2 linked regions of the Homo sapiens genome follow. The protein of the gene in region 2 purifies or fractionates together with the protein of the main gene of each other region. This does not show direct contact. Each region holds a gene or a part of one and is shown on either strand. Other genes may lie near its edges.

Region 1 (4,226 bases), on a different chromosome or scaffold from region 2:
TTACCAGTAGCCATAGGATTCTGCTTAATGTATTCCCTGCGTATACTGATATTTTTCAGTAAACATTGTCGTGCGTGTGCTCTTCTCTCCTTCACAGGATCTTTGGCACACAAGGCAAAGATCGCCATATACTCCAATGGGAGCAGTAACTTCACAAGTGCCTTATGCAGCTTCTGAGCAAATATCTGCCTTACTTGGTAACACTCATCCTACAGCAGCACAGAAAAACTTAAATTGGCAACCATTTATTAAATAAAAAACAGCAGTTTAAGTATTTTTAGTGTCTTCAATTAAAAAGAAGATAATTATATGGGAGAATAAATAATGTAATAATTGGAAGACAGTTAAACAGGTAATAATAGTAGTGACTTTTGTGCATATATTCACATTATAAATGGATTTGTATCCATAGAAAAGTAATGTATTCAACTTTGAAGATAAGTAATTGACAAAAATAAGATTGTTACTTACATTAATAACAAGTGCACAGAGCTGAAACTGTTCTGGGGTAATAATTTCATGGTAACAAGGTTCCTGAGCAAGCTTCATTATGGCACTACCAGCAGCTAATCGCAAGCGAGACATATCAGATTTACTATAAACAAACAAAAAAGAAATAAACATTTCCTATAACCACTATCATTCATAAAAATGCTTTCGTCCCTTTTTGAATGTAAGGTCCTTAGAGCATAATTTATGTTTAAAATGACGTACAAATATGGGAAAGCTACTTTGAGTCCATGAACTTAACACAGGGGATTGTGACTTTCACAATCAAATCAAATCATTGTGACTTTCTGATTACAAATTTACCTGCCTTCATTTCTAGTCAAACTCTAGCTTAGATACTTCACCACAACCCAAAAACTCTGCTTATTCTTGCAACCATAGTAATTGCAAGGCTAGGAAAAACTCTTTACATCAGGAGCTGTATCCCTCATTTTAAGAGAAATACATATTGATTGTAGAAAACTTGATTAAAGTGGCCAGGCATGGTGGCTCACACCTGTAATCCCAGCACATTGGGAGGCCGAGGTGGACGGATCACGAGGTCAAGAGATTGAGACCATCCTGGCCAACATGGTGAAACCCTGTTTCTACTAAAAATACAAAAAATTAGCTGGGTGTGGTGGCACGCACTTGTAGTCCCAGCTACTTGGGAGACTCAGGCAGGAGAACTGCTTGAACCTGAGAGGTGGAGGTTGCAGTGAGCCAAGGTCGCACCACTGCACTCTACCCTGGCAACAGAGTAAGACTCTGTCTCAAAAAAAACAAAAAACAAAAAACAAAAAACAAAAAAACTTGATTAAAAAAACCACAAAGAATTAAAAAAAAAATCACCTATCATCATTTAAAATCTATTTCCTGCATATAAACATGTAACAGGAATCTAGTTTAATGCCTGCTGAAATGGCAGGGCTGCAGTTAAGAGTGAAGAAGTATCAGACAAATACCTAAAGGATATGAAATATAAGAGGCCAGTGTCTGTCTTAGGTACTAGTTCCTGGGGCTGATCTCCTTTTGCAGAGTAAAGTTTTCAAATGGAACCTATGAAGCCTTGGCACTCCCACCCCGACACTGTGGATTTTTATTACTTACGTGGTAAAATGTGGTAATGAATGGGATGGCATGGGAGTCTTTCTACTTCGACTTCTATGTGGAACATAGCATGGCTTTTGTATTTATTGTGACCACTTTACGAAATGCAGAAAGCTAGCCGGAACCCACTGGGACTGTTGCTAAGCATAGAGAGAAGAAAACCTGGCACTCTTGGACAACAGGATTGTTAAAATGAGCACTGGTAACAATGAGGGAGCCTCAAATGGTTTCTATGGCATTCATTCAGGAATCAAAGTTAATAGCTATTATGTGAGTGCTTACTCCGTGCCAGGCAGGTGTGAAAAACACTTTATAGGCTTTATCTCAATTAATTTTCACTCCATAAGATGAGGAAATTGAGGCTTACAAAAGGTAATACTATATTATATGATATCCAGTTAGGATCTGTCCAATGGGTGTTCATTCTATGGTTAACCATTCCCCTATTTTTTGTGATGGAAAATAATGCTGGAGGAACATGCTTGTGTATAAGCTTTCATATGATTCTTTTATACTCATGAATTATGAGTGTAAAAATAAAGAGTCAAGGATAACATTTTTGAGGATCTAGATGCAAAATGCCAAAGAGTCCTGCTAATTTATACTCATAGGAGTAATGAAGGAACCCATTTCCATGATCATACTGAGGAATGATTGCTTATAACGTTTTTTTTTCTTTCTGATTTGTAATGAAAAGAGGTATTGATTAAGTTTAAATTGTATTGACTGCATTTAGTGATGTTAAACTTTTAAAAGTAAACTGATAATAGCTAAACTTCATCTCCACTGGGGGTCCTGCCTAGGTATCACTGACTTGTAAGAGCTCATTATTATGCCTTTGCCATGTACTGTACATAATTACCCCCAATTTAAAGCTTTCATTATCCCTAACTCAGCTCTAAACAGTGTTATAAAAGGCTGCCTTTGGCTTATTCTATGATAAAAATAGAGCGTAGTGGTGCACACCTATAGTCCCACTACTCAGGAGGCTGAGGCAGGAGGATTGCTTGAGCCCAGCTAGCCTGGGCAACATAGTGAGATCCCATTCCTAATCACAATAATTTTTAAAAAAATTAATAGCATAGCAGTACCACATAACTAGCCAAAGCTGGAGTACAATGGCGTGATCTTGGCACACTGCAACCTCCACCTCCTGGGTTCAAGTGATTTTCATGCCTTAGCCTCCCCAGTAGCTGGGATTATAGGCACGTACCACCACACCTGGCTAAATTTCTATATTTTTAGTAGAGACAGGGTTTCAACATGACCTCAATTGATCTGCCTGACTTGGCCTACCAAAGTGCTGGGATTACAGGCGTAAGCCACTGCACTCAGCCTCATAAAGAATGATTAAACCTCTGTCCTCTAAAACAAATTTTTAAAAAGGAATGCATCATATGTAGAATACTTTAGTTATCTATGTTGGTAATCTTGGCCCCTACTAAATCAAGAATTTGACAGAAACCAGGATCATGAAAAACTGAGCTTCTATTTTCATCTTAAAATGAGATGGCAATTTTAGAGATTAAAAGTGAAAATGTGTAACAATGTAAACAATCTCTGTGTGCACATACAAGTGTACACACCCAAATCTGTAGAACAACAAGAAGGCTTCAACTCTCCCTTGAGTTGCCATTGCAATTTTTATTTTTATTTATTTATTTATTTTGAGACAGGCTCTCGCTCTGTTGCCCAGGCTGGAGTGCGGTGGCACGATCTCAGCTCACTGCAACCTCTGCCTTCTGGTTTCAAGCGATTCTCCTGCCTCAGCCTCCTGAGTAGCTGGGATTACAGGCATGTGCCACCATGCCTGGCTAATTTTTGTTTTTTGTTTTAGTAGAGACGGGGTTTCACCATATTGGCCAGGCTGGTCTTGAACTCCTGACCTCGTGATCTGCCCGTCTCGGCCTCCCAAAATGCTGGGATTACAGGCATAGGCCACCGCGCCTGGCTGCCACTTAAATTTTTATTACTTTCATGGGACTCAAGTCACTCCACTTATTTAATCGCTTTAATACAGGGATGCTCTTTGAAGGCAGGGACTTTTCCTACTTATTTTTGCTGCAATGCTTTTCACAGTGTTTTATGAAGTAGAAGTTTAACAAATACTTGTTTAATTGAACCAAATGTTGATGCTAACTGTAATAGTACAATATAGTGATTATGATTATGTATTTACTGGAAAAAGTTCCTCTTCTTTAGGAATGAAGAAAAATATATTGGCACTATTAAAATAACAATACTGACAGACAGACAAACCCTAAATGAGTACATAAGATCTGACCCTGAAGATCATGGTGTAATTACACCATTCAGTATTCATTAGGTAAATAATTCCTATGTAAATTCCACCAAAATTTCAGCACTAAGAAAACTGGAAAGAAAGAAAAATCTCACCTGATCCTCTTTTGCTCTGTCAGGTCACCCTCACTAACCAACATCGCTGATAATAACCGAAGGGTTGAATTGGCAGATTTAGACTGGTTGTTTTTCATACCCAACAGCCACCTTACCAGAAGTTTAATTGCCTGTACCTATAAAATATTAACATGCTAAAAAAAGAAAGCAACTTAAAATTCCAATTAAAGGGAAAATTAATTTAATTAGATTAATGAGATTACTCATCT
Region 2 (4,707 bases):
ATAGCACCTGGTATACAGTAAATAAGTACTCAATAAATGTTAGCTATTATTAGCTATTCTTGGTTTTCCAGTGCCATCAGGGTATGCTTCAAATTTGGTTTAATTAAATAGTAAGGTTGATAAAAGGTTGCTAATGGAGACAATAGATTGGTGCTCATCACACAATTAGAATATAATTGAAGACATTCAATTTAAAGACCCTGCTGGTGTCAGTCCATAGACTCTCAGGGGTCACAGGACATTAGGGAGCATCTTGTTGATTAGAGACATTAGAGAGCATCTTGTTGAACACCTTCACTTTATGGCTGAAGACACCAACATCCAGAGGGATGAAGTCACTTGCAGTGAACCATCTAGAAAAACAGAGAGCAGCTGGAATGTGGTTACTGTTGATGGTACTTTAGGCTCTTGGAGGGCTGCAGCAAAGTATTCATTATAGGCATCAATCATCACTGCAATGCACTGATTAGCCAGTCACTGGAGCATTCTATTCCATTCAGAATGACAATAAAAGCATTTATATGTTTGGAACTGTCAATATACAATGTAAATACAAGAAAGTAAACTGACTTTGCTTTATAACCAAATGCTATTATTTACTATACTCATAGAAAATGCCTCCCAATAGGGGTGTTTTTATATGTTTCAATTTCAAATATCACTTGAAAGACATTCTTTTTTTTTTTTTTTTTTTTTTTTTTTTTTTTTTTTTTAGAGGCTTGCTCTGTCGCCCAGGCTGGAGTGCAGTGGTGCGATCTCGGCTCACTGCAACCTCTGCCTCCTGGGTTCAAGTGATTCTCCTGCCTCAGCCTCCCGAGTAGCTAGGATTACAGGTGCGCACCACCACACCTGGATAATTTCTGGATTTTTGGTAGAGACGGAGTTTCACCATGTTGCCCCGGCTGGTCTTGAACTCCTGACCTCAAGTGATCTGCCCACGTCGGCTTCCCAAAGTGCTGGGATTACAGGCATGAGCCACTGCACCTGGCTGAAAGACATTCTTTAGTCAAAACTATTATAAAAATCAGTCTGATGTCCTTGAAATGGAAAAGCCTGCACCTCTGGAACAATCCATACATCAGGAGGCATGCAGGGAGGACACTGCAGATGATCAAAGTTTTATTTAACATTATAGAACACTTAAAAATAAACAATATGATTGCATTTCTGTTGTGTAACTTTGAAAAATGTTTTCAAGCACACATAAAAGCAACAAGTTTTACCCCCAACAAGTATGCTATGCAGCCAGTCCCTAACTGCTGGGGTCAGCACTGCTCTCAACAGACAGCTGGGGTAGGAGGTAGGCTGCTGGTGTCCCTGCAGGCAGGTGGCTTTTCCTACTCGGAATGACGATGTCTTTTCTTGTTATGGTTCTCAATTGCCCTTCTAAGTGCTTCATCCTGGATAAGATCTGACTTTCTTATATCCGTGTGGCTACAGCCAATTTGAGGGCAACTGTGAGAAAGAAAGAACATCAAGTCAGTCCCCTTTACTGCCTTAAGCAGAAACTTCTTTTATACTCAAGTGTTTAAGTAAGGCATTTTACTGAAAAAGGAAAAGTGTCAAAATCAGGACCAAGCTGTGCTCATTCATTTATTCACTGAGTCCCTACCTGAGCCAGGCCCTGTCTGGGTGCTGGGGACACAAGCGATATGTGAGTAGTGCCTGCCTTATCATGAGCTAACTTTCTTTTTTTTTTCTGAGACGGAGTCTGGAGTGCAGTGGCACGATCCTGGCTCACTGCAAGCTCCGCCTCCCGGGTTCACACCATTCTCCTGCCTCAGCCTCCCGAGTAGCTGGGACTACAGGCACCCACCACCACGCCCGGCTAATTTTTGGTATTTTTAATAGAGTCAGGGTTTCACCGTGTTAGCCAGGATGGTCTCGATCTCCTGACCTCGTGATCCGCCCGCCTCGGCCTCCCAAAGTGCTGGGATTACCGGCGTGAGCCACCGCGCCCAGCCTATGAGCTATCTTTCTAATGAGGAAGACAGGCAACCACTAGGGAACCAAATAAATGCTTGCTGCAAGTTCAGGTCACCTTATGGGCTATGAGGGCAACAAAGCAGGGTCAGGGAGAGAGAGTGCTGGGGCCACAGCTTCACTGGCTGGACTCAGGGCATGCCTCACCGAACACATCTTATCTAGGGCAGGACCCAGAATGAAGCGTGGGAACAAGTCTGCATGTGGTCTGGGCTGAGGCAGTAGCAAGTGCAGTGCTGAGGACGTTCCAGCTTGGTGCCCTGGAGTGACAGCAAGCTCTATGTGGCTGCAGCGACCCAGGCAAGAGGGAGAGCAGTTGGAAGTGAGGTCAGTGCGCCAATGGGGCTTTGGAGTTTATTTAATTTAATTAATTTATTTATTTTGAGATGGAGTCTCACTCTTTCACCCAGGCTGGGGTGCAGTGGCGTGATCTCAGCTCACTGCAACTTCCGCCTCCTGGGTTCAAGCAATTCTCCTGCATCAGCCTCCTGAGTAGCTGGGATTACAGGCGCCTGCCACCATGCCTGGCTAATTTTGTGTATTTTTAGTAGAGATGGGGTTTCACCATGTTGGCCAGGCTGGTCTCGAACTCCTGACCTCAAGTGATCCACCTGCCTCGGCCTCCCAAAGTGCTGGGATTACAGGCATGAGCCACCGTGCCTGGACTTGGATTTTATTTTAAATATGAAGACAAAACACTGGAAGGTTTTGAGATGGGTGAGGAGTGTGTTTGGTTTACATCTGGAAAATGTTACTCTGGCTGCTTATGGAGAATACAAAACAGGGAGGTAAGAGAAGGGCAGGGAAAATAGCATGGGGGATCCTGCAGGGTGCAGGAGAGAGGTGAGGGCAGCTCGGCTGAGGGTGGTATGGCGATCAGCTTCAGGACATGCTTGACCATAGAACCTATAGGACTTGCCGATGGAGTGGCTGTGGAGCATAAGCGAAAGGGAAGAAGCGAGCTTCATCTGGGTAGATCAGTGACTGGTAGTGCCCTTCATCACAGTGGGAAACGATGGGGCAAAACAGGCTGCAGCACAGAACCACAGTCCTGGTTGGTATCTGTTTCCTCTGGAATGGATGCCCAGTAGCCCTCCTAGAAGAGAGACTGAGTGGGCCACTGGGACTCGGTGGAAAGGCTGCAGCTAAAGACATCAGTGAGTCACCCACAAAGGGGTGGAAACAAGCCACGGCTCTGCTTCGATGTGGTCTTCTCTGAGGGCAGTGGGCTGGATGAAACCACCTATTTCTTCTCAAAGAATCTGGTTCTCAAAGTGAACCAAATTTTGGTAGATTAGAGGCCCAATGTTTGGAGTCAAGCTAACCTAGGTCTGAATTTTCTCTCTACCACCTACTTGCTAGTTATGAGACCACAGGCAATTCACAATAACCCTCTTGAGCCTCCCTTGCCTCTGAGTTAAAATGGGGAGAGAACCCTTATTTCCCAAGGTGACAGTCAATACTGTTAATTCCCTCCCAGATCCTCTGTGCTCAATAATGTTAATTCCCTTCCAGATCCCCTGTGACTATCATGTGTTCCCTCATCATCATTCTTCCAAGAAGTTTTAAAGTTCTGGATCTATTTCTATCTTGCATATATCCCACACAGGCATGCACCCATTCATGCATTAATTGACTCTTCTAGGGATCAGCCCTATGCTAGGTTCTAAGCATGCAACTGTGAAATACAAATACATGGTTCCTGCCCACACAGAGCTCTGGCCCAGTGATCTGAGACAGCTCTCCATAAAGCACAGGATATTAAGACCAAAAACAACAAATGTGCAAACCACAGTAAAGATGCAAACCAGAAGGAAAGAAAGTTGGTCATGGGAGCTCCAATTTGTCTAGTGGTAGGAAGCCCAACAGTCCAACATGAAAGAAAGTATTTCTTGGCCCTGATCTGTGGATCAAGGAGTTTTTACATTAGAGGGGTATTAATCAATGAAATATAATATGCTTAATAACAGTATTTATTTTTAAAATATTAAAATATGGCCAGGCACGGTGGCTCACACCTGTAATTTCAGCACTTTGGGAGGCCGAGGCAGGTGGATCACATGAGGTCAGGAGTTTGAGACCAGCCTGGCCAACATGGCGAAACCCTATCTTTACTAAAAATACAAAAATTAGCCAGGCGTGGTGGCGCATGCCTGTAATCCCAGCTACTCGTGAGGCTGAGGCAGGAAAATCACTTGAATCCAGGAGGTGGGGGTTGCGGTGAGCCAAGATTGCACCATTGCACTCCAGCCTGGGCAACAGAGCAAGACTCTGTCTCAAAACAAAACAAAACAAACAAAAAAAAAGTGCCCTACATACTCAGGTACATGATGTGTTAAATCATAATTACAGAAAGGCAATTATATGAAAGAGGATCAGGGTGATTTGGCCCAGGTATGCATCATTTTGATGATTTGGCTTTGCATTAGGGCAAGGCTGGAGAAATGTTTTACACTAGTTTAAAAATCTGTATTTTTTTCCCAGCCTGTCCCCCTACGCTGTGAAGTCTCAAAGCGAATTCTCCTTCCTTTCTTCCTTCCTTCCTGCCTTCCTTCCTTCCCTCCCTCCCCGCCCTCCTCTCTTCTCCTTCCTCCTCCTCTCTTCTTCCTTCCTTCTTTCCTTCCCTCCCCCTCCTCCTTTCTCCTTCCTTCCCTCCCTCCCTCCTCCCCCTCCCTCCCTCTCTCTCTCTCTCTCTCTTTCTTTCTTTCTTTCTTTCTCTCCTCT

Evidence for each region.
Region 1: the proteins of NSMCE2 (region 2) and PDS5A fractionate together in Homo sapiens (co-fractionation; one study listed by BioGRID). This does not show direct contact.

Annotation. Positions count from the first base shown.
Region 1 is NC_000004.12:39,862,865-39,867,090, forward strand, and holds part of PDS5A (sister chromatid cohesion protein PDS5 homolog A), read right to left. Parts: intron 4,134-4,226; coding exon 3,997-4,133; intron 596-3,996; coding exon 472-595; intron 210-471; coding exon 5-209; intron 1-4. UniProt on the Homo sapiens protein: Probable regulator of sister chromatid cohesion in mitosis which may stabilize cohesin complex association with chromatin. May couple sister chromatid cohesion during mitosis to DNA replication.
Region 2 is NC_000008.11:125,363,516-125,368,222, reverse strand, and holds the end of NSMCE2 (E3 SUMO-protein ligase NSE2), read right to left. Parts: exon of another isoform or gene 4,669-4,707; intron 1,456-4,668; coding exon 1,338-1,455; 3' UTR 1,103-1,337; downstream 1-1,102. UniProt on the Homo sapiens protein: E3 SUMO-protein ligase component of the SMC5-SMC6 complex, a complex involved in DNA double-strand break repair by homologous recombination. Is not be required for the stability of the complex.